2 separate regions of the Homo sapiens genome follow, and region 2 is linked to region 1. The links come from fine-mapping of genetic effects on gene expression. Tissue or cell type: blood mononuclear cells. Region 1 holds a variant in brackets; the other region holds the start of a gene. All regions are shown on one strand. Distances are from middle to middle.

Region 1 (2,848 bases):
GATGAACCAAGCCTGCAACCACAGGGGAACCCAAGTGGGGGCTGAATGAAGAATCAGACACTGGGCCAGGCGTGGTGGCTCATGCCTGTAATCCCAGCACTTCGGGAGGCTGAGGTGGGTGGATCACAGGAGGCCAGGAGTTCGAGACCAGCTTGGCTCACATGGCAAAACCCTGTCTCTACTAAAAATACAAAAAGTAGCCAGGTGTGGTGGTGCTTGTCTGTAATCCCAGCTAGCTGAAGCACAAGAATCGCTTGAGGCTGGGCTTGGTGGCTCACGCCTGTAATCCCAGCACTCTGGAAGGCCGAGGCGGGGGAATCATGAAGTCAGGAGATCGAGACCATTCTGACTAACACAGTGAAACCCCATCTCTACTAAAAGTATAAAAAGTTAGCCGGGCGTGGTGGCGGGCACCTGTAGTCCCAGCTACTCAGGAGGCTGAGGCAGGAGAATGATGTGAACCCAGGAGGCGAAGCTTGCAGTGAGCCGCGATTGCGCCACTGCACTCCAGACTGGGCAACGGAGCCAGACTCCATCTCAAAAAAAAAAAAAAAAAAAAGAATTGCTTGAGCTTGGTGGGTGGAGGTTGCAGTGAGCTGAGATTGCGCCACTGCACTCCAACCTGGGTGACACAGTGAGACTCCATCTCAAAAAAAAAAAAAAAAGAAGAAGCAGGCACTGCATGGCAGGATCCAGTCGGATCACTACCCTATGCTTATAAAACGTGACCCAGTCCCCGGCTCAGGGGGACACTGCTTTGGGACTTGTTACAAGTCATAAAATCCCCTTGCTACATCCTCTCTGGTGGCGGTCATTGAACTGATACCCACCAAGTGGCCGAACCCACCAGTTGTGTGGATAACACTACAGGGTTATGAATCTTTTACCCGGGTCCTTCCATGTCACCGGGACAGCTTCTAGAGCAGGGGTTCTCAAGCCTGGCTAACACAAGTATCACGTGGTGAGGGGATGTCCAGTCCCGCTCCTCACCACCTGAATGGAAATCCCCGAGGATGTGCCCCCTGACTCCCCTCGCATCCCATGTTTTCTAAAATTCCCCAGGGGATTTTAGATTCTATCAGGCAGCAAAGTGAAGAGCCAGCAGCAAGGGGAACAGAGTCAAGAGGAGTGAGCCCCACTGGACAAGAGGGCCAGGTGCTAGAGCAAACCTCAGCTCTGCTCCCAAGCCAGACCATCACAGCCCCTCATCAAGACTTCACCTCCTAGGCCCAGCACGGTGGCTCATGCCTGTTATCCCAGCACTTTGGGAGGCTGAGGTGGGAGAATTGCTTGAGTCCAGGAGTTCAAGACCAGCCTGGGCAAGATGGTGAAATCTCGTCTCTATAAAAAAAAATTTTTTAAATTAGCTAGGCGTAGTGGCCTGCAGCTGTTGTTCCAGAAATTCTGGAGGCTGAGGTGGGAGGATCACTTGAGCCTGGGAGATCGAGGATTCAGTGAGCCCTATTGAG[G/A]CTTCAGTCAGCCCAATGCAAACAGCATTGCTACACTCCACCCTGGGCGGTAGAGCAAGACCCTGTCTCAAAACAACAACAAGAATAAAAGACTTCACCTACTGGGCACCTTGGGCGACTTCACCTACTGGGTTGGCCAGGCCTTGTGCTGGGCATAGAAAACACCAGAGATGGTGTTGGGAGTGTGTGTGTTGGATCTCTGTGTGTTGACCGTGGTGCCCATCCTCCACCACACCCTTCCTGGCCCTGGGCTGGTGATGTTCTTTCTTGGGTTGGGCCCTTTGAGCTGTCACACCTGCACTCTCTCTTCTGAGCCCCACACCATGGTCCGGCCACAGTCTCTCCTCAACTACCTCACCCCCAGGCCAGGCACCACTCCAGGAGCACCACCTATACTGTGTTCAATGAAAATGACACCCCCTGGAGTTGTGCAAGGAGGTGGCACTGCCCACCCCACCCCCAATTCGTGTAAATTTCCTGAGGGCAAGCTCTGTGTCCAGCCTCCCATCCGATTCTCTAAAGAATTCCTTTCTGTTCTCTGCATCTCAGTTCCCTCGTAGGGGCAGCACAGGGGAATTCCTGTGCGAGTCTTCCAGTTCAGCCATTTAGGATTCTACCCTACAACCCATTCACTTGTTTATTCATTTCAGTCCGCAAATACTTTTTGAGTACCTACTGTGTGGCAGGCATTGCTCTAGGTGCTTGGGCTATATCCATGAACAAAAAGTACCCATCTTTGCCCTCGTGGAGCTTACAATCTAGTAGATAGCAGTGAGGGTGACAGAGACCCAGAACAACACATAATGCCTAAGGAAATTCTACAGCATGCCGTGGGGGAAAGGAGCAAGGTACAAAGGCAGCTGGGAGAGGAGTGCATGTTCCTTCAGTAAGGTGGTCGGGGCGCTCATCCAAGAAGGAAGACTCGCAGGAGGTGAAGGAGGGAGCCAGGTAAGAAGCCCACGCACCAGCCACCAGGCAGTGGTGAAAGCGGAGGCAGAGTGAAAAGCCTCAGGCACACCCTGAGATTAACAAAGAAGTGAGAGAAGGGGCTTTAGGACCTGGAGGTTTAAAGCCAGCAGCAAAGAAAGGACGGAATTCTGTTCTTATTGTATGGAAAAGACAATGACAATGGCACTGGACTGCTCCAGCCAGAGCCAGGGGTAACCAGCCTCCACCCCAGCTGAACAATGGGGGAAGCAAGGCTGAAGGAAGTGAAACCCTTGACCAGAAGCGGGAGAAATCTCCTCCCCACCACCTTCCCCACTCCAGACCAGCAGCTCTGGGCCAAGAGGCCTGATACCCAGCTCCCAGCCCAGGTCATGGTGGGTGAGACACATCATCTGTCCCCTTCCGTGTGCTTTGAACTTACCAATCATATT
Region 2 (2,500 bases), 35 kb before region 1:
TTACTCTCGATCTTGTCAGACCACTTGGCTATTCGGGAATTATTTCATCAAGCTGAAGATATTCCCTAAAAGATCCCAGTGAAGCCTGTTCCCTACAATTGACAATGTTTTATATTTTAAAAATACATAAATTAATAACGTTCCAGAAACATTACTTGCTCTTTTTTCAGCATTAGCATAACTAGAAGAAAATGATTTTATAAATTTCCAACATAAAATGAATGTCTCTGCGATCATCTGTAAGATTTCATCTCCACCGGAAGTAAGATCATGACAACCAAAAGTCGCTTTGACGAAACAAATCTAGGACATGTGTGTCATTGTGACTCAACATTTCCCTTACCATTTGGCGGAACCTAGTGTTTTTCTACTATAGGTTCAGCCATCTCTCTATCAAGCCATGACCTCCGTCTTATTTAGACATGATTCCTTATTTGCCAAAGAATAACAAATTGTATTTTTCTTACAAGCCTATCATTTTCATTGTCTTAGTCATTACAGGTTTTAAGTTGTTTCAGTCTGACTAAACAACACTAAATGGTAGATAAACCTAGGAAGATATTTCCGAATATGATGCTTCTCTGAGCAAGAGCACAAATACCAAATTATTTGGCCTTCTCTTTAAAATCTGAGAGGTTTTACATGAACTATGTCTAACCATAATTGAGTTTTCAGTAAGAACCAAGTTTATCTTTAAAAAAAAAAAAAAGAAAAGAAAATACACACAGTCAGATTCACCCCAATTGGAATATAACGTCTCCCAGTGTTAAAATAACAATGACACCGTCACAGCGCACTAAAACTTGGGGCTGATGTAGACACTTAGGGGTAGGCAGACACCCCCCAACAGTCAAAGGTGCCATCTCCTCCATGCAACAGGCACAGGAGTCATTTTCTAGATTCCTTTTTTGAGCTTTTAAAATTTATAAACCTCACATTTTCATCCCAAAATAGCACATTTCAATCATTGTAAGAGTTTACAAGACTGCACACGCCACAGAGTTTAATTTTTCTTGGTACCAAACTTAACAGAACTCATATTAAAGGGTTCAGCGACCCCAAATCCTTCTTCTTTGCCTCCTTTCTCACAATATTATACATTCTATGCCTTAAAATGAATATAATGACTTGCATGGACCACAGGGCTTACAGAGAAGATGGCTGGGGAACAAGACTCCTGAGTCTTACCTTGAACTGAGGATTCCAGAACCAGGATGAGGGCAAGAGCCAGGACAAGCCGACTGCATTTGAGTAGCTTCTGCATCATGACCAACTTAGTCTAGCTCTCCCAGCTGCACGCCAACTTCTTGATTAGGAAATGTAGCAGGGTGCTCTCTGTCCCTTTTAGAAAATGTTCCAAAACCTCAAACCCTGCCCAGAACACACGTCACAATTTCCTGAACAAATAGAAAGACATCCACATCAAAACCCAGAAAGAAAGGGGGTGGGGGGAACACAGTAAAATAACTATTCATACCCATTATGAAACTGTACTGGACTCCCCCCAGGCCTGCTTTTTCAAAAGTTTTGTTGTTTGCCACTTGCCTGCAAGACATTTTTTTTTCCCACCGAAACAGTAGAATCAGCATTTGGGACAGTTTGTTTTTCCTTTCTTCAGGTAACAATCTAAACACTAGATTGCTAATATTAAGAATCTGCTGCATTTTTTATGAGATAAGGGATCTAGGTGCTGCCTTTTCGTCACCAAGCACTTTCAACATAAAACATTCTCTTCATTTTCTTTTTCACCGGGGAGTAACATACCTCACTGAGCCAAGCTCGTGAAGTGAAACTTCAAAGCTGAGCTCTAACCTTCAAGAATGAGTTGTCGGATTTCAGATGAACAGTTTCTTCTTCTTCTTTTTCTTCTTTTTTTTTTTTTTTTTTTTTTTTTTGAGATGGAGTCTCACTCTGTCACCCAGGCTGGAGAGCAGTGGCGCGATCTCAGCTCACTGCAACCTCCATCTCCAGGGTTCAAGCAATTCTCCTGCCTCAGCCTCCTGAGTAGCTGGGATTACAGGCGTACACCACTGCGCTGGACTAATTTTGTATTTTTAGTAGAGACGACGTGTCACCATGTTGGCCAGGCTGGCCTCAAACTCCCAACCTCAGGCCATCCGCCTGCCTCAGCCTCCCAAAGTGCTGGGATTACAGGCGTGAGCCACCGTGCCCAGCAAACAGTTTCTTCTTAAACTCAGTTTCTTGCATTGGATCATTGGCTCTCTCTCTATCTCAAGAACATAGGATTTTCAGTTACAAAGACTGTGGTAAAACAGAAAAACTATTTTGCATTCCCCTCTCCTTCACATTGAGCATTTCTTAAGATGGATTCCATTTCTATTTTTATCTGTTCTCCTAGTCAAAATTTTCAACTCGAGTTTTGGGTCCTCTGGCCTTGAATAAGCCAGAAATCAGGAACGAGGGAGAGGTTGTCCTCACAGTGAGCTGCTGGACCTCAGCAAACAACACAAACCTCTGCCTCATGTAAATAAAGGAACAG

Evidence for each region. PIP is the estimated chance that this variant, and not a neighbour inherited with it, causes the effect.
Region 2: SRGN starts here. The variant in region 1 is fine-mapped to the expression of SRGN in blood mononuclear cells (TOPMed, PIP above 0.99).

Annotation. Positions count from the first base shown.
Region 1 is chr10:69,052,104-69,054,951 of GRCh38, reverse strand. No RefSeq gene overlaps it. Among named protein-coding and RNA genes, the nearest start is that of SRGN, 35 kb to the left of the region's middle. RefSeq lists a silencer at 41-90 and enhancers at 941-1,100, 1,230-1,729, 1,730-2,231, 2,352-2,461, 2,602-2,731. The variant G/A (reference allele first, on the strand shown) is at 1,470.
Region 2 is chr10:69,086,925-69,089,424 of GRCh38, reverse strand. It overlaps SRGN (serglycin), which reads right to left and starts at 1,322. Exons shown (of 3, transcript NM_002727.4): 1 at 1,189-1,322. The coding sequence starts at 1,267. RefSeq lists an enhancer at 1-1,191.